Regions from separate parts of the Homo sapiens genome. Here region 1 is linked to region 2. Evidence: fine-mapped expression QTL. A gene starts in region 2. The other region holds a variant in brackets. All regions are shown on one strand. Distances are from middle to middle. Region 1 overlaps OVAAL (ovarian adenocarcinoma amplified long non-coding RNA). Region 2 holds the start of LHX4 (LIM homeobox 4).

Evidence for each region. PIP is the estimated chance that this variant, and not a neighbour inherited with it, causes the effect.
Region 1: its variant is the best candidate, but not a certain one, in a credible set for the expression of LHX4 in lymphoblastoid cells (GENCORD, PIP 0.67).

Annotation. Positions count from the first base shown.
Region 1 is chr1:180,561,270-180,576,344 of GRCh38, forward strand. It overlaps OVAAL (ovarian adenocarcinoma amplified long non-coding RNA), which reads left to right. Exons shown (of 3, transcript NR_125716.2): 2 at 935-1,075; 3 at 3,982-5,249. It also overlaps the pseudogene LOC124904658. Among named protein-coding and RNA genes, the nearest start is that of OVAAL, 9.8 kb to the left of the region's middle. RefSeq lists an enhancer at 10,165-11,364. The variant G/A (reference allele first, on the strand shown) is at 8,571.
Region 2 is chr1:180,223,057-180,238,131 of GRCh38, forward strand. LHX4 (LIM homeobox 4) reads left to right here and starts at 7,208. Exons shown (of 6, transcript NM_033343.4): 1 at 7,208-7,549. The coding sequence starts at 7,474. RefSeq lists a silencer at 6,649-6,778.

The sequences.
Region 1 (15,075 bases), 340 kb after region 2:
TGACCAGATACTTAGTGGCAGCCCCAGCTGCAGTTATGGCAAGAAGTGGCCAAGGAGGGGAATCACCATGACCACAGAGGATGCAGTGGGCATTAGGGACCTGGCATTTGCTGTCAGAACAATCCAGTCAGGGTAACAGGTGGTGTTGCAGGAGATGGGTGGAGCACACAGCAGGGATTTGGGGAACAGGAGATCCATGGATATCTACACATGCTGACAGCTCTCAGCATCGGGTTATCTGGCAGCTCAGAGCAGTTGCTTTGCCTGGAGTGGTTGGGTACTCAGCCTGGCTGAGGCTTGTCTGGGAGAACTTTCTCTGTCATTGTTCATCTTGATCTGTGAGAAGCTGTAGGTGCCCCTAAGGCTCAGTGGGAAGATAAAACCCCAACAAGTTGGTCTGGAAAATCGAAGACCAGCAAGTGGGTATGGTCATAATAATTTTAATTTTATTTTTTTTTTAATTAGAGTTCTGGCCAGGTGCAGCGGCTCACGCCTGTAATCCTAGCACTTTGGGAGGCAGAGGCTGGCAGATAACCTGAGGTCAGGAGTTTGAGATCAGCCTGGCCAAAGTGGTGAAATCCTATCTCTACTAATAATACAAAAAATAGCCGGACATGATGGTGAGCACCTGTAATCCCAGCTACTTGAGAGGCTGAGGCAAGAGAATTGCTTGAACTAGGGATGCTGAGGTTGCAGTGAGCTGAGATTGCACCACTGCACTCCAGCCTGGGCGAGAAGAGTGAAACTCCATCTCAAAAAAAAAAAAAAATAGAGTTCGCTTTTCCTTTTTGGCCTTCCTAGACTGCGCAGGTGTCAGCAGGAGGACCAGCCATCCACTTTGGCTATGGCAGCAAGGCTTTCTGGTCAGTCTGGAAATCAGTAGGTATGGAGATTGGCTTGCAAGTACTCATCAGAGCTCCTATTTTCTTTTCAGGAGGCAGCTGTATGGAGGCCAATATGCAGACAAGGGAAGTAACTCAGGCATTTTGGGGGAGAGGTACAGAAAGAAGAGAAAAGACTGAACTGACTGCTGTTCTGAACAAGAACTGTGACTATATGTGGTACTCCCAGAATGGTGAGGTCTGGGACACTTGAATAATATGGCTATACTGTGAATGATGTTACCTAGACAGAATGTTTATCCCAGTTAAGTGATAGGTAGGGAACTAAGGTATCGAGGGTCTCAGGTATAACGTCCTGAGGGGTCCCATGAAAGCAAAGATAACAGGTGTATCTTTTATGCCTCTTAGAGCTGTACGAATGCTGTAACTCAGGGATCTATAAAGCCCTAAGTCAAGCAGAGGCACAGGTGGAAAAAGGGGCAAATTTGATAACCCAGAGAAGAAAGCCTGGTGATCAAAGCAAGGAGACAAACCTGAGGCTGCCATCAGGTGCTGAATATGAAGTGAGGCTGTCAAGGGACACAAGGTATTCAGTAGCGGATGGGGTGTGCACAGAGAGGAAGGCTGGACAAATATCTGAATCAGGGCCATGGCCCAGGGCTGATATTTTCTGAAATGCCTAAGGCATGATATGTGAGCAGGCCACTATAGTTAGAGTGACACAGACAGAGTGACAGAATAGAACAAACAGCAGAATCAGTTTAGTGTTGAGTGTGTTCATCTGGTTAGACTAATTTCCTAGTCACAAAGATAAAACTGAGAACATGTTTTTTTCCTCTAGCCAAGTGGTCCTTTACAGGCAGATTAAAGACACCAGCTATAGATAAACATGAAAGCAGCTTTACTGCTACTTCCCTTCGTTTTCAGTTCTGGTGGGCAAGTAAGGAGTCTCCCGCTCCAAGAGAGAGTAAAGGTTTAGAGCTACTCCCAGCAGGGTTCAGGGCATGCTTATGGCAGAGAGGAGACTTGCCTTCCCAGCCTCCTGCAGGCCCTAGGATGCCCTGGGTCTAGCCAGAGAAGGACAACAGTGAGTCAGCAAGTTAGAATGGGTTTAACAGTAACAGCCGGGTGGAGTTCACGTTCTGTTTCCTCAGGCTTCCACAAAGAAAACCAGAGATCTCTTATGTAGGACTAACCAAGTATAATCTTGTCTTACTGAGTATAGCCAAGTATTCACAGTTTGGGTCACTGTGAATGGAATTGTTAACAGTGGAGAATTCGTACGGGTCGGCAGCAACCTCAATCGGGGCATAAGGCAGAGGGAGAGACCCAGGCAAGTTTTAGAGCAGGAGTGAAAGTTTATTAAAAAGCTTTAGAGCAGGATTGGAAGGAAAGGACACTTAGAAGAGGTCCAAGTGGGCGACTTGAAGGACAAGTGTGGTTTGACTTAGGGTTTTATATGTTGGCATACTTCTGGGGTCTTCTCCCCTGATTCTTTCGTTGAGGGTGGTTTGTCCATATGTGTAGTGACCTGCTAGCACTTGGGAGGTGAGCATGCGCAGTGTGTTTACTGGAGTTGTACTTATGCTCACTTGAAACATTCTTCCCTTTACTGGTGACATGCCCCCAGAAGATCAAATACCAGTTAAACTCCGCCATTTTGCCTCTTGGTGCTCATGTGTGAGTCCGCACGCCCAACTCCTGGGATCTTATCAGGAAGCTGATGATCACCAGTTTCAGGTTTCTTCTATCTATAGGGAGACTGCCTTTCCCTGGAGCTGGCTGCAACCAATTATTATTTTAGAGAGACAGTTAACAATGGCCTGACCATCACCCGATGGTCGCCTGACTTTCCCGGTGGGGTGTGGGGACCCTCTTCTGTCCTGTTTGTGTCTGACTAGCTACCTACTGTAACAGGATGACCATATAATTTATCATTCAAACTACTAGACACTTTTGAGAGTGAAGGGGGGCACTATTAGTTATGTTGGCAAAACAGGTGTGAATGTGGATGTCTCTGGATAATCAATATCTACAGCCATCCAACTCATATATGGTAACCCAATCCTTTCCATTTTTTCTAAAAAGCTAGCCATGCTCTTAAATTAAAACACAGCATTTGAGTCTAAAGTCGGATTGCCAGTTAAAATACAAGATGCTCTGTTAAATTTGAATTTCAGATAAATGAATACTTGTAAGTATAACTATGTCCTAAATATTTCATAAGACATACTAAAAATTATCACGGTTTATTTGAAATTAAAATTTCACTGGGCATTCTGTATTCTTATTTGCTGCTGACAACCCTAGTCTAACTAGGGTTAGACTAGTTTAACTAGTCTAAAGTTAAACTACTGTGTTGTATTCAATTCTATCATCCTGCTTATGATGTAAGTCTTTTAGGCTCCAAATGATTTAGGACATAGTCTGGTTAGCAAAAGGAGAAAATTGAGGCATCTGTTCCAATTGGACCAGTCACCTGAGCCACTAAAATCAGCTTTCTTAAATGTCTCTGAACTAGGAATACGCTGGGACTAGGTCCCAGTGCTTGGGGTGAGCCAGGCCAGCAGGTGAGTGTCCTCAGTTGTGGGACAAGGAGCTTAGTAGATAAGCATCTTCTCCCTGCTCGATGTTCACCTTTGCTTGATCTCCTAGGCCAGTGGTTCTCACCCCTGGCTGCATATTAGAATTGCCTGGGGAGCTTGTAAACCCACTGATGTTTGAGCCCCACTCCAGACCAATTAAATCGGGATCTCCAGGGGCAGGCTGTGGCATCCATGGGTTCCCAAAAGTTCCCAGGTGATTTTAAGGTTCTAATGAGAACCATTGTCCTATGCCCTCGCTCTGTTCCCAGTGGCATCAGTTCTTGTTTAATTCTTCTCCTTTAAATACCCTCTTTGTAGTATTGGACATTTTATAGCCCAGAAAATATGACTGGAGCACCTGTTCTGTGTTAAAATGGCGGCATGGATGGGATTTGCCCGGAAGGGTTCCTTGTCCTTCCATGACCTTGTCTTGTGCTGACTCCTGGCTCTCTCCAAGCCTCCCTTCTCCTCTCTCCTGCTTAAGCCTCTCTTCAGCTTTGGCTTTCCTTGTCTCCTCCTTCTCTGTTTATAACATGTCAATTTCCATTTTGCAGCTGGTTTCCTTTCAGACCCATCAAGTGGCCATCCTATTGGCTTGGACTGAAGACCCCCACTGGAGAACTGTCTCTGCAGCCTATACTGATGACACTGGCCACTGTCCAGGGCTCCACCCCAAGGAGTCCAAGCCCCAGACATTTAGCCTTAGAGAGAATCCAGATTTTGCATTTCCAGTGCAGGGATTGATGGAGCCTTGTGTATCAAAGTGCCAATTTCTTTCTAACAAGCTAGGGAGGATACCGTTGACAGCAGCAGAAAGGGGTAGCAGTGGTTTGCTTTCCAAATGGTAATAAGAAGGGCCTGGCAGTGGCAACCTGTCCACGTATCATTAAAAATGGACTCTCCTGCTTCGTTTGGAATTCAACCCAATGAACTTGAATAAACTCTGGACAATGACCAGCACAGAGCCCTAAGCAGGATACAGCAAGATTATTTGCTTTACTCATCCACTGAGTACCTACCATGTGCCAAATACTATGCTATATGCCGAGTATACACTGGCAAATAAAACAGATATGGTCCCTGGAGCCTATGAATCTTACCCCATCTAGCCACAAATAATAAAAATAAGAAGAATCTGAAGGACAAGTGGGACAGAAATACTCAAGCAGAATGAGGGTGAGATTGAAGTCCCTGAACATACAGTGCCCTTTACACTTGATCTTAGCCAAAAGGCCGAGAAGAGATTACAGTGCTTTTTAAAGGTAGCATTTCACCCAGCCAATAATCAATCCCTTTGGCCTTCTTGAGGTGCAAGGCCACACACTCAAATTCTTTAATCAAACAATAGGCTAGTGCAAATGGAGCTATTTCTTAAACCCAGCTGTTTACACAGCAGCTACAAATCTGTTCAGAAGGAATCCCCCACCATCCACAACTGTCTATCGAGCAGATGTGCAAGAGTATTTGTCTCTCACCACCAGGGTTGCAGTCAGGACAAGAGAGCAGGTTTGAACGTCTTCGGCTCCTAGAACTGCACAAGCTGTGTCTTCAGTGCCCAGAGGCGGCTGCAACGTCTCCCCAGTTCTCCTCTCAGAACAATGGAAATTTTTTTTAGAGGCGTAATAGGAAGGTTTGCATTGAATTATTAAACAATGGGTATTGAAAAATATGTTTTCTTTGACCTCTGTACTTCTAGCTTTTACCAGTCAGTGTTTTCTTGTACCAAGGCTAAGATATGTATAACACTGAAATGGATGTCTTCTTATATAATATTTTACAAGCTTTTGAAAACCTGTGCCCTTTAATAAATTTTAAAACGTTTCATGCCCTTCTTTCATTTTCTGAAATTCAAAATAAATTAAATATCAGGGGACACAAAAGCACAAGAAGAAAGCACTGCTTTGTTTTCAAATCAGGCCCCAAGCCACTGCCCTTGAGATTCTTGTGGGTCAGCACAAGCACCCCTCCCATCTCCAGTTCCTGAGACTCATTGTTCCAAATGGTAATATTAACATTTGCCATGTTCACTCATGGATAACTTTCCATTATTTCAGTTGTAAACATTTTCTATGTGAAATATGAGATGAGACCAATGAAACAATAGATTTTAAACAAATTAAATAAGAATTTTTGCAAGCAAAGGAGCATCATGACTTTGAAATGGCCACTTTTGGGGGCCATGCTTCTAGGGCTAAAATACGCATGCTTCTGGGGCTAATACCTTGGCTCCAAAAATTGGGAGGTACTCATTCAGTGCAGCGGAAAGGAGTATAAGCTTTGGAAGCAGGTGATCTGGATGCAAATCACATTCTGCCACATTTTAGCTGTTGCCGCTTTGACCTAATTGTTTAACATCTTTCTAAGCCTCAGTTTCCTCAATGGTAAAAGGAGAAAAAAGATAAGAAAAAATGAATGCAAAATGTCTGCACATCTCAAGAAGCTAGTAGTTACCAAGATTGGAACTATCACTAATGATATGTCTTTTCCTTAGAGATCTTTTAGGATGATTTTTTTTTTTTTTTTAGAATCTCTTGTCTTTTAAAGTCAAATTAAGAGAATAGAAGTGGATAATAAATGGCTGGCCGTTCTAGTTTTAGAGGGAAAAAAAACTGTTGCTATAGTCACTATCCTACAATTTTGTGTGGTTCGTTAAATGACTCTGAAGTTCACTCCAAAAGATGTTTCCAAAATGTTCTGAGCGACCACATTCTCCTTAGAATTGTGCACAGACTGGCTGGGTAGCCACTTTGAAGGGATTCAATTCCTTTGAATGTTTAAGTAAGTTGTTTGGTGTTAAAGAAATTCTCTTTGTTTTATGGCCACACCACAAATATGGACATTGTAAAAAAGGCTTAATGATTGCAAATCCGCCTTGCCATTTCCTCTATGTCCAGATATATGTCTTTTTAGAACACTGATGTGTAGTAAGCAGAGATTTTTATTCCTTTTTAATTTTTTTCCCCTTTGATTCCTGAACCTTTGTCATCGACACAGGAAAATTAGACCCAGTCCCTGCTACCAAAAGCTACCGCGATCATTCCACAGTTTCACACGCTTTCAGGTTTCCATTTTCCTTCTCTCACCCCAGATGCCTGGCATACGCGATAGCAGCAAAAACAAAATCTGTTGCATTTTTGGAATGTTATTAACACTGAAGCAGCCCAGGGATTGCAACAGCTAAGATAGGGATCCCCACCCCCAACTTTTTTCTCACTAGAGAGCAAAGAGCAACTCTTAAATCCAGAAAGCGAGGAGAACCTTGTCCGGAAGAGGCACTCAAATGCATTGAATCCACTGATTTCCCTCTGCTTGCCACCCCAGCCTTCACCACCCCATCTCGACTTTCCCACAGGAAAACCATGTTAGGTGTTAGACAATGATGCCACACAATAGAAATATAAATCCAGTGTTTGTCTAGCATAATATAAATGGCACTGCTGAACTCCATCCTTCCTCCCATTGACAACATCAGAGAGATAGTTAGTGAGGGGCAAAATCATCTGTGATTGTCTCTGCATGGATGTTGAAATTGCTCCCCCCAGGGTCTTCTAGGGTTTTTAAGCATAAAGGTGTTCATCCAACTGAAAAAATTGTATATCTATAAGCAATTTGAGATTCAGCATGTCTGGCAATGCACATTTTTTTAAGGATGAGAAAATGCAGCATGAAATGTGTTTATGTATGCTGTGCTGGGGAATTTCTGAACCTTTCACTGTCATCTTGAAGCCTTTAAGAGGGAAGCTCTTGAGGATGTTGGATTATAAAAGTCATTCTCTCATTTCTGGGACTTAAGGACACGTCTCTGAGCATAACAAATGTGCGATCACAAATGAAGGTGCCTTGAGCTTAATGGAAGAAAGGTTTATCTTCAACACTGACATTTCTACTTCTCTAATAAAATCATATTGTGCCTCTTTTTTTATTAAAAGGTTTCTTCGCCCTTCCCCTTTCCTAGGGCTGATGGGATTCATCCCCTAAAGCTGGTGTGGTTGGCAGTAACAGGGCTGAGTAGATTTAGCTGGTATGATCAGGAGATTGGTTACAGGGGAATTGAGCAAATAAGTAAACATATTGAAAATGATGGGAGCCAGGCCGCTCACTGTTGGAGAGATCTATATTTGAGTTACAAATATAGAATGAAAGAAGGCTAGAATAAATGCTGTGGTGTTGGAATAGAACTGAAAGTATTGGTGTGAACTCCTGGTTTTTAATGTAAATATATAACAAAGATTTATGTGTATTATGTGTGTATATATAAATATATACATATATAGAGATACACATATACATGCATAGACATATCTATCTATCTATATACCTAATTTCCTAGCTCTATCTGCACCGAGTGCCTGAAAGTAAAGGCACCCAAGTAGCAATAAGCATACCTAGCATCCACATCATGGCTTCTAGATATTATTTTTTATTAAAAGGAAATAGGACTCCATCAGGAAATAGCTGATTCCAGGATGTGGTAGTTTTAAAACTGGTCCACTCGAAGATATCTACATCTTAACCCCTGGAACCTGTAAATGTTACCTTATTTGGAAAAAGGATTTTTGCAGATGTGATTAAGTTAAAGATTTTTAAATGAGGAGATTATCCTGGATTAGCCAGGTGGATCCTAAATGCCATCACAAGTGTCTTTATAAGAGAGAGACGGGGGAGATTACAGACAGAAGAGGAGACAGCGTGACTATGGAGGCAGTGATTCAGTCACAAGTCAAGGAGTGCCAGCAGTTACCCCAAGCTGGAAGGGGCAATAGACAGATTCTCCCCTAGAGCCTCTGGAGGGAGTGTGGTTCTGCCAATAGCTAATTTCATCCCATTAATATTGGTTTCAGACTCCTGGCCTCCAAATTTGTAAGGGAATAGTTTCTGTTGTTTCCAAATCTGTGGTAATTTGAGATGGCAGTCAAAGGAAGCTAATATACAGGCCTGGGGCAGGGAATGTCCAAGATGAGCCTGGAGCATCTTCTTGAGCCAGAAAGTGAGGTGATGCTCAGGATGAGAAAGGACACAGGGACCAGCCTGAAGGGACTTCCATGGGCCAAAGTGAGGGCAATAAAGAATCAAAGGGAATATCAAGAATAAAAGTTGGGCACGGTGGCTCATCCCTATAATCCCAGCACTTTGGGAGGCCAAG[G/A]CTGGTGGATCACCTAAGGTCAGGAGTTCGAAACCAACCTGACCAACATGGTGAAACCCCATCTCTACCAAAAATTACAAAAATTAGCCGGGCATGGTAGTATGTGCCTGTAGTCCTAGCTATTCAGGAGGCTGAGGCGGGAGGATTGCTTGAGCCCAGGATGTTCAGGTTGCAGTGAGCGGTGATTGTGCCACTGCACTCCAGCCTGAGCAACAGACCGAGATCCTGTCTCAAAAAAAGAAAGGAGAGAGAGAGAAAAGAAAGAAAGAGAAATGGAATTAGAATATCACCATTTGGCAACCAACAGAATGGAAATTAATTTGGACAAGAATCATCAATGGATGCAAAAACTAGTGGATGACAGTTTGATGAGAAACAGCATCTTTACATTATCTCACAGTGTCTTCCAACAAAATACTTGTTAACTCTTATTACCCATTTTTAATTTAACATCACCAGTAATGGGACAAATTGACATCATGTACCCTTGATATGATAGACTGAGAACAAAGCATTACTCTGTGGTGTTCCTGCCAAAAATGCATGACATAAAGCTAATCACGAGGCAGTATCAGACAAACCTGAACTGAGGAGTATTCTACAGATAACTGGCTGTACCCTTTGAAAATGTCAGAGGCATGCAGGACAGGGAAAGGCTGAGAAACTGTTCCAAATTAATTACTTCCAACAACCAATCCTCAACTGCATTCTGGACCCATAAAGGATATTATCAGGGCAGATGGTAAAATTGGAAGTTTGTGAATAAATGGTGACATTGTATTGATGTTTCTACTTAGTTATGTAGGAGAATGTCCTGCTTTTAGGAAATGCACACTAAAGTATTAAGAGATAATGAGACATTATGTCTGCACCTGCCTCCCAAATTGTTCAGCACAATAATTTATAAAAATACGCAGAAAGATTGAAAGACAAATGTGGTAAAATGTTAACAATTAAGGACTCTAGGTAAAGGGCATATGGGAGTTTGTTGTAGCATTCTTGCAACATTTTTGTAAGTTTGAAATTATTTCTAAATGAAAAGTTAAAAAGAAAAAAAGATAATTATTCTACCATGGTACCCTGTAACTTTCATTCAAAAAGTACTTATGGAATTCCCATTCAGAAAGTGAAAGGGCATTGGAGGGAAAGCCAGGGTACCTGGTTCTGCCACTATCTGGGTCCCCTTGGGCAGGTAACTTAACCTCTCTGAACCTCAGTCTCCTCAGCTTTATCATTCTCTGCTTTTCTACACCTAAGGCAATTGATTTCACTAGTTGGTTTAGTTCTGATTTAGAAGGAACCAACAATGGCATAGTTAAAAATCATTACTGTGGAATGGGGAGTGGCTGCTAGTGAATAATTGAATGTCATTTCTTTTTGCAGGCAAAAATGTTCTAAAATTAGATTGTGGTGATGACTGAATAACTCCATGAAAATAGTCAAAAATATTGAATCATGCACTTGAATGGGTGAATTATTTGGTATGTAAATGATATCTCAAGGAAGCCATAGAACTCATTGCTGTTGATTTTCTCACCCCACAGCCAACCGTGATTCTATAAGGTTAGACTGAAGAAGCCTGTGATGTAATGGTGATGGTTTAACAGCTGGGTGAGTAGAGAAGACATTCTCATTCCAGAGGCAGGTTGAGAAGGAAAAGAGCAAATGCTAAAGGAACATTTCCCAATGGCCGAAGGAAAGAGTGTGAGGGACATTTCAAGTGCCTGCCCCCAGCCTCTGTCATCATCCTTTGCCCTCTCACTCTACGAGGTCCTTGGCTGACCTGATCCTTTACTGTGGTTTCAACTTCCTCCCATAGGTTGGTGACTCCCTGTGTGATTTAGGATTACATGTGGCTGCAAGAGGAAAAGGAAACTAAAATACTGGGAGCTTAAAAGCTTAAGCAAAAGCTAAGTTTTAAAATGTATTTTTCTTTCTCACATAACGTCTGAGTAAACAGTCCAGAAGCTCCGTGAGGTCTGAGATCCTCTCTCTGGGCCTCCCTTTACAGCCTCAGAGGCTGAGTGCCGAGCAGCTCTAGCAAGCGCGATTCCCATAGACAGCCTGAGTGGTTCCTTCTGGAGTAGAGCAATGTGATGGCCCTGCCCAGGACCCTTCTCTCTTGTCTTCTTTAAGTGGTCTCATCTGTGTTGTCCAAGATGGCAGCATTTATCTTCCAGGAAGGAAAATGGCAGAAGGGACAGAGGCAGATGAAGGGGCGCAGGGTACACGTGGGCTGAATCTTAAGTAAGGTTTTCAGAACTTCTCATTGTCTTAGTCATATGACCATACTCAGTCTTAATCATACATGTCTTAGTCATAGGACCATACTCAGTTGCAAGTGAAACGGGGAAATGTAGTTTTTATTCCAGGTGGCCATGCACCCTTCCCCCCAGAGAAAAGCGAAGGGAGGGAAGGAATCCTATTACCATGAAATAAGAATAAACAAGTATTAGGGGACAACTGGCAACCTTGGTTGCTATTTCCAATCTATACTTCTAGTCCACACCCATATAGTCAATTGTCTCCTGGACACCTCTACACAGATGACTCACAGACAGCTAAACAAAACCAGCCCTAAATGGAAAGTGTTGTGCTTCCCCACCTACTCCCGTCCCAAACCTGCTCCTCCTCCTGCGATCACCACCTCAGTGAATGGTAATGTCATTCATCTACTCGGATGAGAATCATCTTAGACTCTTGCATCTCCTTCACTGCCTGTCCTCTCTCCCTGCCCTGAGAGTGCCACCCCTGCAAATCTCCTCCTCCCCATCCCCATGACTTTAGCTGAGACTCATTTTTTTGCTGGTCTGGATTACTATAGGGGCCTTAAACCGGACCTCCTACCTCCAAGTTGTCCCCACTACAGTCTTTTCCCCACCTTGTGCCCAGAGTACTCTTGGTGAAGAGAAACCTAATTTTCACCTACCCCTCCTTCGAACTCCTGGGTTTCTCTGTACCTTTGGTGGTAAAGGGGTTTCCTCGTACCTTTGGTGGTAAAGTTCACTCTGTTTGAGCATAGCACCCGAGGCTCGTCAGGATCTGGCCTCTGCCTGCCTCTCCTGCTCCATGTGCTACCTCTCCCTACCACACAACCTTTGATCCAGTCCAATGGTGCTGAACTATGGGTAACAGTTCCCTAAACAGCCAGCTGATGCATGCCACTCTGCCCCTGCACAGCTGCCCATTCAGTCTGAAATGACCTTCCCATTTTTGTCTAATTCCTACTTCTTCAAATCTCAGTGTGAGCACTGCCTCCCCAAGGAAGATTTCCTGGGTTCCCCAGTCTGATTTAGGCATTCTTCCTTTTACTGCCCTAATACACCATCCGTAATTATCTCAGTACTCACGTATTTGTATATCTTTCCCACTATACTACAAGCTCTTCAAAGGCTGGGATCTTGTCTTTTTTTTTTTTTTTTTCGCTTTTTTATCTCATATGCCTGGCACATGAATATTTGTTGAGTAAATAAATATGCCAGGCTCAATCCTACACGTTTATATGTCATTTATATGGGGAAACAGGCTCAGAAGAATTGCATGACATGTCAAAGACCACAGTGCTAATAGTACAAATGGAAATTAAATCCAATATTCGTGCCTCTTTGTGTGTTCCTACTTAGACAAATAACATTTATGGCTGTTTTGAATTGAAATGTGGATGCACCCACTTTGGAGTTGATTAACCTTCATCCTAAGTCTATTATCGGAGGTGTGTATTTCTTCTCTTCCTCCACATTCTTGAGTCTACGAACACATTTCTAGGGTACTTACAAAAAACAGAGTCTTGTCCAGGCGTGGTGGCTCGCGCCTGTAATCGCGGCACTCTGGGAGGCAGAGGCAGGTGGATCACCTGAGGTCAAGAGTTTGAGACCAGCCTGACCAACATGGTGAAACCCCGTCTGTACTAAAAATACAAAATTAGCTGATCATGGTGGCACATGCCTGTAGTCTCAGGTGCTTGGGAGGCTGAGGCAGAAGGATCGTTTGAACCCACAAGGCGGAGGTTGCAGTGAGCCGAGTTTGCACCATTGCACTCCAGCCTGTGCAACAAAAGCAAAACTCCATCTCAAAAAAAAAAAAAAAAAAGTCTAGGCTGAGCACAGTGGCTCATGCTTGTAATCCTAGCACTTTGGGAGGCAAAGGTGGGAGAGCCACTGTGCCCAGTAGTTTGAGACCAGCCTGGGCAACATAGTGAGACCCCCATCTCTACAAAAAATATTTAAAAATTAATGGTGTGTGCCTGTAGTCTTAGCTATGAGAGAGGATTGCTTGAGTCCAGGAGTTCAAGACTCCAGGGAGCCATGATTGCACCGATGCACTCCAGCTTGGGCAAGATAGAGTCTAAAGATAGAGTCTAAAGTCTTTGCCTCCTCCTGGAAAAATGTTATCATTGTTCTCTACCAGCGGAGTCTGTTTCTTTACTCCTCCACTCCTTCAATGAATATTTGTTAAACACAGCTCTGTGTTAATGCCTAATTGACACATAAACATGCAGAAACTAAGATATTTCAGCCATTATCAGAACCTTTTAATCTTTTTGTTAGAGCCAAGGAGATTCAGCTTTGTCTAAGGATACGGTTACAAATGAAGAACAAGGAACAGAGCTGTATGTGTATGTTCAAGGTTGCATGCTATTATTGTTCCTTCTAAAGCAAGGCAGATATAATCCTTGTATTGGAAACAGGTTTCAGGTACAATAAACAATGTGCTCCCTTATCTCAGAAGCACAAAGGTGGTTCAGCCAGTTGTTTACCACTCAGGTATTCCTTATTCAGCAGTTTTCGTACAAAAATGCTACCTTTTAATTTCCTAATGCTCTGCCCTCCCAAAAGGTAATAAGAAATAGAAACTGGGTACTGCCTAAATGAATTCACTTGTGTGGAAAACAAAGTCATTTTTATATACTCCTGCAATGTGCATTTGACTACAAGCCAGAACATTTTACACAAGCAGTGGAATTCATCTCTTGAAATTGATTCAGGTTTTCTCTGATAGGAGGGGTGGAAAAGGAAAATGAAAAGCACGTGATTATAATTGCACTTGGAAGCAGTCCCAGTTACAAGAGCAGTTCTTTAAAATTATTCTTTTGGTTTCACCTTAAATTATCTTAATGGGAGAGTACAGTTTAGTAGGAACAAGGAAAAGTGGGAAAAGGATACCTGGAAGTTTCTCTTTTCTCTTCTTTTGTCTTTTCTTTTCTTTTCTACCTCCTTCCTTCCTTCCTTTCTCTTTCTTTCTTTTCTTCTCTTTCTTTCTTTCTTTCTTTCTTTCTTTCTTTCTTTCTTTCTTTCTTTCTTTCTTTCTTCTTTCTTTCTCTTTCTTTCTTTCTTTCCTTTGACAGGGTCTTTCACCCAGGTTGGAGTGCAATGGCATGATCATAGCCCACTTCAACCTCAAATTCCTAGGCTCAAAAGATCTTCCTGCCTCAGCCTCCCAAGTATCTGGGATTACAGGTGTCCACCACTACAACTAGCTACTTTTTTTTTTTTTTTTTTTTAGTAGGAGTCGTTATGTTGCCCAGGCTGTTCTTGAGGGCTCAAGCAATCCTCCTGCCTCAGCTTCCCAAAGTGCTGAGATTACAGATGTGAGCCACTATGCCCGGCCTAGAAGTTTTTATTTATTCATTCAATAAATATTTAGCACCCACCACATGGAAAGCACCACATTGGGACCTGTGGAAACATGATGATTAGTCAGATAAAAGGTCTGCCTTCAAGTGAGCACAATACTGCAGGCAAGTTAATACACACAAACACACACACACACACACACACACACACACACACACGTATTGTCCTCACTAATCTAATTCAATCTTAAAATTTTTGCTACCTAAACCCAAGAATTAAATAGATTCAGATACATTTTAGAATAAATCCATCTCCATCCCAGCTTTTACTACTTGCTTTCCAAAACTCAAGAACCTCCAGTCATCAGTACTTGGACACACCATTCAAAATCAGTCTCCAAATTCAGGAACCTGATCGGTGTGGCTGGCAGGATACTTTAGTACTATGTAACATGATAAGGGCTATAAGAGTGGCCCCAAATGCTATGAAGCTTGGAAGAGTGTGAGATAGGCGTACAATCTAGTGGAGAATATATTTTACTTTTGCCTTGAGCAGTGGGTAGAATGTTTCATCGCCAACCTCAGTGCCATGACATGTCAAAGACGACAGCACTAATAGTATATATGGAAATTAAATCCAATGTTCATGCCTCCTTGTGTGTTCCTACTTAGACAAATAACAACCTCAACCTCAGTGCCCTCTAGCAATTCTTTTATTTCTCCCCTATATGTCCTTTCCCCAACACCCCCCTTGAAAGCCTTTCACCAGTCTTTCAAGTCCCCTACTTCTACTTTCCTCCCTTCACTCTCAGAAAATGACCTTCCCTCTTACTTGATAGAGAAAATAGGGACTGCCAGCCCTGCATGACCTCATTTTCCTGACTACATTCACCTCTCCCCAGTGAAATCACCCCACCTTTCTACATTTCATCC
Region 2 (15,075 bases):
TTTACATAAATTTGGAGATTAAGTCAAATCAGAAAACAAACAAAAACGAAGAGAACATAGGTGCAAGGCAGTGTGGGCAGAACAGCTTCCGAAGGAAAAATACAGAATCAGCCCAGCTATACCTTCCTGTCCCCTTTGCTTCGTATAAGCAAGGTGTCTGTTGCCATGACGGAGTGGAGCTTTTCACAAGATAGCTAAAATTTCACCCAAGAAGCAATTCTGGCACATTGACCTCAGCTTGTGGCAGAATTGAAAGAGCAGGTTTCCTCCACCTGCAAAAAGGGGAAAACCAAGAACAGTCCATGGCCATGGGGCTCTCTCTATCCCAAATGCATGCTTAGGAAAGAAGAGCTCCCAAAGTCTAGTCTTCACTTAAGAACACCCAGGAGAGTTTCTTGTCCCTTGGTTTCCCCTATAAATGTAAAATAAGGAAAAGAAAAAAAAAAGCAAAATATTGCAGAGGGTATAATCATGATGCTTACTAGGTGCGGTGGGTAACAATCTGTGAGTAGAGTGCTGTTGTTAACCCCATTTAGTCAAAAGACTGGATTTAATTTCCAGTTGGCACTACAATTTATTAGCTATGTGACTTTAGGGACAGCAGAAAAGGAACTTGCCAGAATGTATCCAAGTTGGGATTTGAATGCACGTCATCTAAGCCCAGAACCCAAACATTTACTAACCCAGTTCTCCAACCCCTTCCCAACACAAGGAAGACAGGCATCTGGAGAACTTTGCTGACATAATTTTATGGGAATGTTGCCAGTCCTGGAGCAAAGTAAGCTGTGAACTGTCTGCACTTGGCACTCCAGGTCATTGCCTTCCAGGGCCTGTCATGGAGCTGGCATACAATAGATGCCCGATGAATGCACGAATTAAGGAATGATCTAGGTAGACTTTTTTTTTTTTTTCTTTTGAGACAGGGTCTCACTCTGTCGCCCAGGCTGGAGTGCAGTGGCGTGATCTCGGCTCACTGCTACCTCTACTTCCCGGGTTCAAGCAATTCTCCTGCCTCAGCCTCCTTGGTAGCCGGGATTACACGCACCTGCCACTGTGCCTGGCTAATTTTTGTATTTTTAGTAGAGACAGGGTTTCACCATGTTGGCCAGGCTGGTCTCAAACTCCTGTCCTCAGGTGATCTGCCTGCCTTGGCCTCCCAAAGTGCTGGGATTACAGACATGAGCCACCATGCCCAGCCAGTACTATAGACTTTTGAGAGATAAAGAGAATTAACTCTGAAATTGGAACAAGACTAAACTCCCCAGCTCCCCCATACACACAGCCATGGGATGTGATAGCTTCAGAGATGGGCTTAGAGGACTTGGCCTTGCTGGGTCATGTACTCTGCATGGACCCCTCACCTGGCCATGCCCAGGAACCCTTAAATAAGGATTATTTGATGATGCTGGTGATGCTGCAAGGATAGAGCCAAACTACCTGTGACCATATCCTAGCTCTGCTGCTTACCACCTGTGCAACCTTGGGCACATCACTTGACCTCTCTGTGCCTCATTTTCCTCATCTGTAGAATAGGGATAATGATAGTACCTGCCTCTAAGGATCTGTGGGGGTTTCATGAGGAATATACATGCAGCATTAGAACAGGGCTGGCAATGTAAGTGTGAGCCATTGTTGCTTTCCGTCTTCCTCTAAGGATCCCAGTGCCCTTTTCTTGTCCTGTTTCTTAGCCACTAACTGAGACAGAATCTTATCTTGAGAGTTAGATGGCCAAGTACAGGACCATCTCTTTCCCATATCCCTTAAATTCCTGTGTCAAGGACACAGGGCAGGTTTAAGATGAGTAGTGACGGCCTTCTGATCAGCATCCTGGTGGGGAGAGATCCCTGCAAGGTTCTGGGAAGAGAATGAGACAAATGACAAAGTGGTGGGCCCATGAAAGGCCCTGTGACAAATGACTGGAAGGACTGGGTGGACAGATGGAGAAGAGCAAAGGCCCCTGTCCTTTTATTGGAGAACTCCTTGTGGCTCCCTGAACAAGACAGTGGCTCCCCAGGGGCTGGGCTTAGGGTTGGTCTCCCTGGTTCTCTCTGCGGGGATGAGTAATACGGACCGGGGCAGAGGGTCTATATCAATCTAGCCCAGCAGAAAAATGAATGAAAATTGAATTCCCCAAGGAGAATCGGGGAGCTGTTATCCAGACAGAGATAAATCAAAGGATGCCACAGAGCCCCGGGAGAGCAGGTTTCCAACAGCAGGAGAATAATTAAGGAAACAGTTTCAAAATGCAAATAATGAAAGGGGCCTTGAGAGGAATGAGGATGAGGAGGAGATGATTAGAGCTGGGATGACAGGGAGGGGAGCAGGGGCAGTGAGATTCGTCCCTCAGTGGAGAAAGAGCCTGGGGTTCAGGATTCCTGGCATCTGAGAGTGAACTTGCCTACTCTGTGAAGCTCTTAAAATGGAAGGGTTAGAAGACACACTAGACTGCTGTGCCGAGTGGAAAGAACACCAGGTTGAGACTTAAAAGACTGGATTTAATTTCCAGTTGGCACTGCAATTTATTAGCTGTGTGACCTTGGGCAAACCACTTAACCTCTCTGTTTCCTGATAATCATACCCAAGCCCGGGCATAATTATGAAGATAATAGGAGATAAAATATGTGGAGGAACTTTGTAAAATGTAAAATGCTAGATAAATGTAAGCTATAATCATTTTCCTAAATTGAGTGTCTTGCCTCTGAATTGGATCCCCTGACATGTTGGGTTTGGTTTCCAGAAATGGAATGTATAAATGTCTAGCAAGTACTGGATACTTTGTACTGGCTATTGTTCAAGTTCTCTGACAGAACTTAGACCTGAAGAAAGCCACATCACCCCACCACAGGCCCATCCTCTAGTGCTCAACCTCCAACCAGGTCCTGGCCCAAAGGGACATGGCTGGCTCTGAGGAACATTCCTGGGAGGTCACCTGCCAGCCCTGGGTGCATTGTAGTGAGAAAAGCCCTGCTGAGTCAGCTCAGGGATTTTAATCCAAACTGAGTCCCACCCCAAGGGTCTTTCTGGGCCATTCCATAGTAGAGATTAATGGACTTCTGTGGGATTCAGCCATTCTCCCATTCTCTGGGGGTAGAAAACAGCTTAGCCCCTGCTAGCCTCGGTTTTTTCATCCACCAAGTAGGTATGATGAAACCATGCATCAGTTCCTCATGAAGAATAGGTAGAATTATGCAGGTAGAAGCACTTGCCTTGGTGCCTAGTACAGTTGCAAACTTTCAATAAATATTAGTTATTATTACTACCATATGCTACTATGTTGTTATTATTATTATTATTACCATCAACAGCAGTAGGCACTAAAATCTGTTTAAGGAAAGCTTTTTGCTAGGGGTTCCTCATTTGCAGATGGGAAAGCTGAGGTCCCAGGGGAAGTGAAGCGTCTTGGCTGGTATAGATGCTATTGGAGGACCTTGGGAATGGGACCCAGCTCATACAAGAGGCGAATGCTTTTAGAAAAGCCTCAGAATGGCCGGGCGTGGTGGCTCACGCCTATAATACCAGCACTTTGGGAGGCTGAGGCGGGTGGATCACGAGGTCAAGAGATTGGGACCAACCTGGCCAACATGCTGAGACCCCCGTCTCCACTAAAAATACAGTAATTAGCTGGGCGTGGTGGTGCGCACCTGTAATCCCAGCTGCTCGGGAGGCTGAGGCAGAATAGCGTGAACCCGGGAGGAGGTGGAGCTTGCAGTGGGCTGAGATCACGCCACTGCACTCCAGCTTGGGCGACAGAGCGAGACTCCGTCTCAAAAAAAAAAAAAAAGAAAGAAAGAAAAAAAAGCCTCAGAATGTGGAAAGGGCATTTATTGGCTGAGCTGCACTGTGTGTGTGGGCATGGGGGTGCAAGGTATGTTGGAGCTGCTGCTTACAGGTGCAAGAACTGAGAGCTAAGCTGACTTTCCTGGGCTTGTCTGCCAAACGACACAGGTGAAAGTGGTATCCCCTGAATCAGTCTTGGGCAGAGATAAGTCCCCACCACAGTAAGGCTGTTCCTCACCTACTGACAGGCTAGTGACATGCAATGGGAAAAGGGCAGGACCCCAGCAGGTTCAAATCAGAGAAGCAGGAGCTGCAGAGAGCATTTTTAAAATATAATTTTAAATTATAAAAGTAATTACTATATATGCTTTACATTCACTGCATTTGAATGTTATCTTTTACTAATGTTACTGAAAAATAATCACTTTACAGAAAATCTGGAAAAGAGAAAAAGGAAAAAATTCCATAATACATCTCCCTAATATACCTTTTTCCAAATATTCTTTTGAATAGTATTTTGGTATCTTTCCTTACCTTTTCCCTAATATTTTAAAAAGCATTTTATTAGTTTTTTTCTGCTTTATAAAATAATGTGCTCATTGAGAAAACTGAAAAAAGCGAAGAGAATAAAATAAAATATCCACTGCACAGATAACCACTTTTACACTTTGGCATTTTTTTTACTCCTCCTAAACAATTTTTTATTGAGGTAAAATATACATATAATTTACCATCTTTACCATTTTTAAGTGTACAGTGTTTATGCTTTTTTTAAGAAAAGTTCCTGAAGTTCATACCGCTTCATATTCTTTTTTCACATTTCCTAATAAATCTCAAACCCTTTTCTACATTAAATATTCTTCTGTTGTATTATTTCTAAGACTTCATAACATTCCATTTTACTTAATAATTTACTGTAACTTATTTACTATCCCCTATTGTTGGATATTTAGGTTTTCCCTTTTAAAAACCTTATAAACATCCTTGTAACTACATCTTCACAAACATTCTTGATTATTTTCTTTGGATAAATTTCTATAGAGATTGGGTCAAATGCATCACATTTGTAGCCAAAACGTCCTGAGAAGACATTTCCCCTCTTTGCAATCCCCACTAGGAAATTGTTTTCTAATTTCCCCACAGCCTAACCAACAATGGGTATTATCATTGCCCTTACATTTGACTAAGATTTTTACATATTTATAATCCTATGCTATTGCATTGTGCTTTTAAAAAAAATAGTATTTCACAAGCATCCCCATGTTATTGGGTTTCATAATTGGTTTCCATGATTCCATAACATACTACCAAACAATTTAATCTACTTCCCTAAGCCACTTTTCTTTTGTTGGCTATTTAGGTTATTTTTCTCCAAAACATAATACTGTAATAAACATTTTCACGCATGAAACTTTTATAAAAAATTCTAGATTATTTCCGTGGAACAGACATTCAAAAGTACTACATAAACTAAAGGGTATGAAAAATTTATGAGTTTGATACATATTGCCAAATTTCTTTCCAAACGGATGTTAAGAGTTTATAAGCACCCAGCAGTATTGGTGAGTGTCCAAGCCCCTTTCGCCAGTCCTGAACTCTAGGATGCCCCTCCCGCGCGTCGGGCATCTCACAAACAGAAAAAGCTGTGCACGTGTTGTTTTGTCTTGCGTGTTTTTCACTGCAAATGAGGCTGGCGTTTCCCCGTGTTTGCTTACTAGTTATATTTCTATAGAACACATTTTGGTAAACACTAAAAATGTCACTGGGTTCTTTTGCTTTTTTCTTCTTGTGTATATTGTCTCGCGCGCGGAGTCACCTCGCAGGTAAACAAGGGAAGAGATGATGCCAACCCAGTACCAGGACACACAAAAGTCACTGTGACCTCATTGGAGACAAATTCTAAGCAGCGCAGACGACCAGGCCATTCTCCCCCGCCCCATGCTCCTCCCTTAAAGGTGAGCAGGTGTCCCTTGTTTGGAGATGACACCAGGGGAAACAGCAGGGAAGGTTCTGGAAGGCTGGGGAGGGCACACAGTCCCCCTTCCCGCCTAAGCTGAACCCCACTAGGCTGGAAGGACACGTATGTCTGCATTTCTGGAAGGAAATGCCGTGGGGGCTGGGGGCAGGAGAGCGGCTGGGTCTTGGGGCAGACGGGGTGGGCTTCCCGCGCCTGCAGCCCGGAGGCGTCGAGCGCCTGATGGAGCGTCAGAGGAGACCTCGTCCCAGCGTTGGGCCTTCTGTTGTATTTCTGCCAGAAACTCGCGTTGAGGAGAATTTGTTTTAAGCGTTTCTCTACCTGTCCATGCATCTCGTAAATACAGTAAGCATGGCAAGCCCTTTCGCTGGTTAACCCCGGCGTCCGTGTGCTCACTGCCGCCCTGCACGCACGAGGTCGCGGATGGTTCAAAGCACCCGCGGTGGCAGCCGGAGAGGCAGAGCGGGCTCTAGGGACCTAAGACAGGGCCGAGCTGGACGACTGGTGGCAGGGCGGCCGGGGAGGCCCCGCCGCGGGGAGGTTTGGGCCCCCTACCCTGCGGAACTGGAGGCAAGTGCGGACTCCGGCTGCAGGCCGCGGTCTGCGGGGACGCGCGCGGGGGGCCTGCGTCCCGCCACCTCCGCGCACAGCCCCTGGTCCCCTTCCCCAGCCCGGGCCGGCGCCGCCCGCCGCGTGACTCGCGCGTTCCGGGCCGAGTACGGGCTGTCCCTTGGCCCAGCCTCAGCCAGACGCGGGGGAGAGAGAGCAGGGGCTGGGAAGTGCCGGCAGGAAAGGAATTGGCCAGGGGAAAGAGGAGGAGGAAGATAGATGGAGTCATCGGTTACGGAGCGCGCTCCGTCCGGCGGAGCGAAGCCGGGGACCGAGAGCGCGCAAGGCGAAGACACAGCGACGCAGCCCCGTCCCCGGCCTCCGGACCGCCTGCCCCGCTCGGCCCCGGCTCGGCTCCGCCCCGCCCCTGGGTCCGAACGGAGGAGTGAGGAGGACACGAGCCGCGCGGGCTTGGAACCCACGAAGACCCGCAAACCCAGGGCGCCGCCGTCTCCGACCACCTGCTGCCGCGGCAGGCCATCAGCAGAATTTATACCCAGGGCGCGAGCCCGCCACGGCTGGGCGGAGGCGGAGGCGGAGGCGGGGAGGGGGGGGGGGTGCCGGCTTGCGAGGCCCCGCCCCGCTCCCTGCCGCCCCGCCCCCCTCCGCCCCGCCGGCCTCACTCGGGGCGCCGGGACCCCCACTCCCTCCGGGGTCGGCTGCCCGCCGCCGGGTTGGGGGATGTGCCGAAGGGCGGGCCTCCCTGCGGAAAGCGACGTCACGGCCGCTCCTGCAGTGTGAATGAATCAAAACGCCCGGGTGACCGCGGCCTCCCGGGCGGCCGGCACGCGAAGGGTGGAGGGGGAGGGGGAAGGAGCGGGCGGGGGAGGGAAGAGGAAAAAAGCCAGAGCTGCAGCAACAGCGTCTCAACCTGGGATGTGCACCAACCCCGGAGAGCGAGATCAAAGGGACTGGAAACAGACTGGGGACTGGCGGGGGGAGGGGGCCGGCCAGCCTGTGGAGTCCTCCCTGAGAAGCGGAGGGCCCGGCTTCCACCGTGACTCCAGCGGCCTGCTTGGGGTTTTAATTATTATTTTGAAATTTCTGAATCGAGCTAGAGCGAGAGAGCGAGAGATCTCCGTAGACTGCGACTCGCTGGCTTTCGCTCCGAGATGATGCAGAGTGCGACTGTCCCCGCGGAAGGGGCTGTCAAGGGGCTCCCGGAGATGCTAGGTGTGCCGATGCAACGTAAGACACCCCCCTTTCTCGCTGATTTAATTCTAACAAGACAGCTAGCAGCCTCAGCCGCTGCGGGGCGGGCCGGACGCCGCTCAGGGGCCGGGAGGGGCTGGCGGCCGGGGCGCAGAGGCGGTCACAGGGCAGGGGCACCAGCCAGAGTGCGTTTGAGGGGGCCAGGCTCTTGGCTGTTTGGGGCCGAATGTGAACGCCTCCTGGATCATGCTTGAGGCGAGCCGAGTACCGAACCCCGCATCTCCAGCCCAAGGCTTTTCTTGGAACGCTGGGGAGAGTGCTGTTTGGGGACACCCAGGGGTACGAGCTGTAGGCCAGGCCTGAGGGCGAGGGTGGTCCCCACAAATCTTCTTTCGCCGGCGTGACGGTCAGCGCTTGCAGGACCGCTAGTGCAACTTCACCCCAGCTGGCGGGAAGTTGGAGAGCGCGTCTCTCGCCCCTGGGGCTGGCGGCGGAGAAGCCCCGGCCACACTCTTAGTCCCTGCGGCCCGCGCCCCGGGCGTGCGTGCCGGGTGAGTCCCCAGCCGCTACTGCCCGCGGCGCCCGCCGCGTGCGCCGCGGGAAACTGACTGCTCCTTGTGAGGGAATCTGCTCGCGCATTCCAGCTAGCCTAGGAATGCAGGGGAGGGAGAAGCGACCGCAAGTTGTGAATTCCGGGTTCAGCCTTTGCGCACGCGAGGGCAGGTGCTCAGGGTGGCTCGGGTTTGGAGGGGTAGAGACGGGGGTGTGTGGGAGCTTTGCTAGCCTGCCCGCCCGCTTTCTTCCCGCGCCCGAAATTAGCGAGACAGCCGGAGCTCGCGGCGTGTTTATCCCCAAGTCTCTCTCTGTGTGTATGGGTGTGCGCGCGCAGAGATTTTCCCGAAGGGAATCCGTCTCTGTGCTTCACTCCTGAGCGAGAGTCCCCGAGAGGGAATCTGTGCAGAGGCCAGAACAGGTGCCCAGTCGTCGCGCGCGCGCGCGCGCGCGCGCGACAAGCGCCGGGAGAGTCCTGCCCCTGTGGCTTGCACGCTCAGCAGGGCGCCCCGGGCACCCTGGAGAGACCAAGGAGTTCCTCGCTCCGCTTGCCAAGGGGTTGTACTTCCGCCTGCGACTTCTTTAGTGGTGCGGTAGCTACATCTTCGGGGTTTACTTTAAGTAAGGGCCGGCTCATCCAGGGATGGTGACTACCTACAAACTAGGGCGCACGAGCGCGCCCTCCTGCGCCTCGGGTTTCCATGGCAGGGTTTCTGTCCGGCGATCCTTCGGAGGGCAGGCGTACCGTAGGCTTCCCTGGGAAGTTTTTGAGAAGGGACTAGAAAAGAATAGCTTCATCCAAGCCTATTTAGATTGTTTCTTGGCTGTATTCTACAGTTATTCTTTGAGTGTTTTCGTGTCAACTGCCGGCAATCAGTTCCACGTCTGTGTTGAGCCTTGGGGAGTTTACCGCTAAGATGTTTTCATAGAAGGCATTGGAGATTCACTACGCCCCACACCCCGCACACAGGCAGGGACAGAGTGGGTTCTCAGCCCCTGCAAAGACGGAAACAGAAACCCTGCAAAGGTGCACCGAGTCCTTAAGCTGCTTGTAGCTCTGCGCGAGTGAGGAGACTGCATGAGTGGGGGAAGGGTGTGTGTGTGTTACTAGTGTCCTTGGTACCCAGTACGTCTGTGCTTTCATGGCTGTGGTCCGTAGGTGACCTGTCTGTTGGGACCCCAATGAAGGACGATGGTCTCTGCTCTGACGGCCTTTCTTGTGATGAGTGACACTCTGATTGTCTCACTTTTTGCCTTCCCTGTTCAGAGACAACTTTGATGTTCGACGTCAGGGAGTCGCTTTGCTAAAATGCCCAGAACTCACCTTCAGAGCTACAGTTTGCCAAGGCTGAGTCTAGGTTCACACTGTGGAAAACTTGAGGTGTACAAAGGAACTTCCACACCCACCCCCCCAGGGTGGCCCAGGGAGGCAATGTCTAATCTAGAGGGGGTGGTCAGTCCTCCCTTTGTCCGAGTTTCGTGACCTTGGTTGGAGGAGGCATCGGCCAAAATTGAGGGGCCCACTCCCTGAAGACTTCTGGATCCAGCTTTTATTTCCTCTTGGAATGTGAATGGATTGTAGCCTCCCTTGCAGCACATCTGGCCTCTGGCTGTTAGGCTGTTGGTGCTGGGACCGCGGGATAGGTCCCCATCACCCACATATACACAACTATTAGTTTTCTTGGGACTGGGCCCAGTGGCCTAAGAAGGGGGGAAGCTCGAGGGGTTGTGGGGCACACCCTTGGGCCTTCCGGGACAGTAGGCTCTTAAACCCTAGAGGAGGGGAGACAAAAGAAACGCTCTCCCACAGGGGTCCCTCCAGTCGCCAACTAGAAGGGTTTCCCTCTCAACACAGACATGTTTGCCTCTTCATCACATGGAGTCACCACGAATGGAGCACTTGGGGACGCAGGTCTAGGTGTCCCCAAGCTCGGTGCCTCTAGTGCCCTCCCCTCTAGGGGCATTTTAGAAGAAGTGATTTAAATCCAGCTTATTTCGGCGGCAGCTGGACTATTCCTTTGCTTATTTGGGGATGGGTGAGGGGCATACCCTTTAGGAAAACGTTTCCAAATGATGTAATAATTTCTCTCTCATCTCTGGTCTTGCTCCAGACTTGGCCTCTTCCTCGCCACTCTGTCCCGGCCTCCCGCCCCCGCAGGCTCCCGTGCGGACTTAGCAGTTCGCGCCGTAGCCCTCCTGGTTTTTTACCGCGCCTTGGTCGCGCGGCCCCCGGTGCGGGCCTCGTCGCTCCGACAGCCCTACAGCTGTCCCTACGGCCCGCACCGACAGCTCGTCCCCGCCACCTCCCTCCGGGCTGTAGGGACGTCGAGATCCGAATCCTCACAGCGCCTGACCCGGGGCCGTGTTGGGTACGGGTACGGCGAGAGCCTTCCGAGCCGCCTCCAAAACTCTCCCCGCGGACCTCAGCAGTCCCTCCACGCGTCGGGGCCCTGCTGGCCGGCCATGCCCTCTGAGGAGACGCGGAAAAGAGCGAGGCATATAGGAAGGTGGGGCGTTTTATCCGCCTCGGTTTTGACCCATCTGCCATGTAGTCTCCCCAGGCACCGAGGGAAAGGACGACGGAAGCCCGCCGCCCGGATCGCTGGCGGGAGAGAGGGCAGCCCGCACGGGAGAAGGAGGAGCCCCGCGGGGTCTCCGCTGGGGGTGGTAATTGGAATGCAGGCCTGGGGGTCTCTGTCCCCCTCCTTGTCTCCTAAAATGCTTCCGGCAAGCTCTGGCGAACCCCGAAGCTGTAGGAAAAAGGTATTTTATTTTGTGTTTGGTAGGGTCGGGGTAAAGGTTTTCCCTGGGACTTCCTCTCCTGGGGCTCCTCCGGGGTGCGTGGGGTAATGTCCCAGCGCAGGTCGAGTTGCAGATCCGAGTCCCCGGGGTTGTTGACTGTCCTTCTTGCAGGACATTTCTTAAGGGGGTGAGATGGATTCACTGTCCAAGACAGGAGTTCACTCAAACGCTGGTGCTGTTCGCTCTTCTTTCCATTCCTGCCTTGTCTCCTAGTGCGAGAAACAGACACACACAACACACACAAATTATATATATATATATATATATATATATATATATATATATATATATATATATAATAGATTGAGATTCTATCATATTCCGAACATTCCGATATAGCAGCTGTAGGCACCATAGACCTCCCTCCCTGCGTCGCGAGAATATATTCTCAGGCAGGAGACAATTTTTACAGATGAGGTCAGCTGTCCCCGCCGGCCGATTCGGGCCTGATGGGTTGGGGGTTCCGATGTCCTAACTGCTAGGATCCCGTTCCAGCCCCTGGCCAGAGCTGTGTACCACAAAGAAGGGAGTTTGGAGAAACCCGGGTAAGCGCGGCAGCGCCCCGCTTGGGACAGCGGATGGCTGAGGACTCCCAAGGGGCGAGAGGGCTCCGGCCTCCTCCTTTCCAGGGCCTTGTTATCTGAGAGGGCCGTTAGCACGGAGGGAAGCTTGGAAAGCCGCTGTCCCAGTGCGCTCCGCATGCGGAATTAACTGTTAAAGCCGGACACGGAGCACGCAGGTGCAGCAGGTGAGGGGCAAAGGTCTGCATTGAGCAGTCCGCAGTGTCCCGGGAAGTCGTAAAGTCGGGACTGAGAAGAAGCAGGACCTAACTCAAGTTTATTTCCTCTCTTGGCCGAGGTCCGGGCTCGTGGAAAACCAGAGCTAGGCGGGGCTACGCAGGGCTGAGCAGGAGTGGCGTCCTAGGGTCTGGGAGCGCGACCCACATGACCTCGCTACGACCGGGGCAGGGCTCCTCCGCCCCGCGGGCAGATGCCGGCCTGGGTGGCCCGGGGAACAGACGATGAATTCTTTAAATGAGCGTTTGCTGCGCACCCATGGGCGGCTCACGATCCTGGGCACTCGCCCGGGAATCCCGGGCGTGCTCTGGGTTTTGGGGGACTCGCCGGTGGAGGTAGATGTGGACAGGGCGGCCGGCCCTTCGCGGGTAGCCGGCTTTGCGCTTACTGCGTCCCGCAGCGGTGGGTAAAGGTCGTAGCCCAGAAGGGGACAAGGGAGGGACCGCCTCTCTCTCCCCGGTGCGCTGCAATAGAGGTTCCTGCGCCTTGGCCCTTGCAGTCCATCCGCCCAGAGGTTCGCGCCCGTTTTCGGAGCTTATTATCTCAGGTAGCCCAGAGGTCCGACTGAGCTGGAATTAGCCAGGCCTGGGACCCCTTTGCTGCCCTTTAGAGTGGTGGCAGGGACTTTTCCAGCAAGGATAGGCGCGGCAGGCGCGAGTGCGGACGGCGCGCCCATTAGGAGGAGGCCGGGTGAAAACCTCTCTTCCTCTCCAGACCCATTTCGTTCCAAGCATTTGGAATGACAAAATTAAACCCCAACCCTGGCGGCTCGAGTCTAATGTGACTGTTTAACCCTGGGAAAGCGATGCTCCCATTTTCGAAGGGGCTCCTCCTCTTCGGAGCGGGGAGGCCGCCGGCGGGTGTGCCCGGCCCGCGCGTTCTGCGGGTGTTCGAGCCTCGGCTCCCCACTCGGTTCCGCAGCTTAGTGGACCTTGACGAGCGCTGGAAACGTGTCAGGCTCCAGAGAGACAGAGTCTCTACCTAGGCGGCTGAGGATGTCAATTAAAATCGACCAGGGAAGGGAGTTGGCGGCACTGTGCGCCGCCGGGGAAGGCGAGGTGGCGCGGGCCACCGGGTGCACTCACCGCACGAGAGGCCGCGGCTGGACTGGGACCGAGCGCATCCCTGTGTCTCAGGGGGTTTGCTTTGTGCAGGATGGGACCTTATTATTTTTAGACAGTGGGGCAAACGTGTCTTTTAAAGAGATCCGAAGGGTGAAACTAATGAAAAAGGAAATGAATTACTAGAAAAGCCGTGAAGGGATAAAACCGGGAGCAGCAGGAAGTTGAAGGAAGGACGACCGAAGCTAGGTGTATCTGCACCTGCCTCTTGACACGCCAAAAACAAAGGGGGGTTAAGGCAAGAATGTAGACTAAATGCTGTGAGGATTAGGGTAACGCGAGCCCTCAAGACGTCTCGGAGACCGCCTACAGGGCTGCAAATACCAGGGTCCATTTTTAAAAATCGAGTGCTCCTAGAGGTGGGGTGGGGGTGGGAGAGCCGGGAAACCAGCAAAGCAATTTCTTTCCATTGAGTAGACAAAAACTTGGGCCACAGGGGCATCTTGTATTTTGAACAGTGACCCGATGACCCCGCTGGCCAGGTGTAGACAGCCTCAAGTCCTAAATATTTGCATTGTCCTAACTTCCCAGTTGCCTCGGATTTTAATGCCCTTTCACTCTGCGTTACAGTCAATTAGTGATTACTTAGCATCCACATTAGTAGACTGAAGCCAGAGACCCCAGTGCTGGGAGGAGAGGAGGAGCCGGGGGAAGGAGGATGGGGCTTGCAGTCCTGCAGGGATGGAAAATTAGTTAACAGGAATTAACTGTTCTTTCTATTACCTTGTTATGAAATCTGCTTTGAGCTTCTTGTTTTGGACGGGAATGGTGGGTATTTAGTGGATTTCTCTGGCTGGGAAACTTGTGTCCTCTTCCTATTGAAGAGTTGTGGATGGGGGGCGGGTAGGTGGAATCGGATAAAGGGACCTTGTGCCTTTTCTTTCAATTAAGGAAATTTTTCAGGAATAGAGCTGAGGAGCTTTGGGACGCATAGGGACTTGGAACCAGTTTAGCTGAAGAGAGGACAAAAGGAGTAATATTACCCACTTTGAGAAACCCACGGTTGGAGACAGACTGAAGCAGCAGTTTGCTGTGGCAGCACCAAATACATGGCTGCATAGACGGCTGAATTTGGAGAGGGCTGGCTGGGGTGCCGTTGAGGCGATTTTACTTTTGTAACAATGTTTTGCCTTTCTCCCTTCCTGGAATGAGTGTTAACAATGCCCATAACAGAGATGTGGGCAAATAGGGTCCACTGCTTTTAGTAAAATTCCATCGCGGTCTGGTGGCTTGAATTTCTCTTTCTTCCTCCCTCCTTCTCCTTCCCCTGTTCCCCCAATTTCTTCTGTCTATCCCTTCCTTCCTTTGCAAAATCTTTGCAGGGAGAAACATGGGATAGTGCAGGAATTCACGACACAGGGGTTTTACTCGGCGGGGGGGGCGGGGAGGAGGGCGGTCGTGTGTCCAGCAGGCTGCACCGTGGTGGAGCCATCTCTCTTTCTAGGCGCCCTGGGAGGGAAGCACAGGTGCTGGGTATAGGACAGAAGCCGCCCTGGAGCTGGGCTCTTATTGTCTGTGGTAGGAAGAAATCAACTAAAATTAGATGCCACTGTGAGGTTTTACCTTATTTAGTCCTCAATTTTATAGGATCCCTGATCAAAATGGAGCACAAGTCAACCATTTTGAGGCATTGCTTTTGGGGGTAGGTGGACAGGTTGGGTTTAATTGGTGAAAATGAAATGGATTCTCCCTTGGAAAATGGACTTTGGGGTTAACTGTATGAGCGGCTGACTGGAAAGTCGTCTTGGGAGGTGAGTCCTACCTCCTGCTGTAATTTTGGTGGATTTCTTTTCTCAGATCTCCCCACCCTGTTCCCTCTGTCAGTCTGGGTCTAGCCACAGATGTTTAACTGCAGTACCTCACCCCCACATGTCTTTAAAGTATAATTTGCTTTAATTATGATGTTAGGGGGTTAAGAGATTGGTTCTGGGAATAGCTTAATAGAGACAAAACTTGCAGCCAAATTAATTGAAAGTTTCTTGCTATGAGGGAAAGATTGCCAAACATATGGAATACTGTTACAGAGTGAGACATTAGAAAAATACATTGTAGAGATTTAGCAATGATTAAATGTGAAAATGGAGTGGAAATAGACGTGTCTACAACATTTCCATACACAAACATGGATTTGCTTAATGTAATTTTCTGTTTTATTTGCAATTACTGAGATATATGATATCCTACTGAAGAATACTAATTACGTGACAATATATCACCTAGGAGATAATCCCTGCAAATACATATTTACATTGTGTATTTCATTTGTTACTCGACTCCTTATGTTAAAATA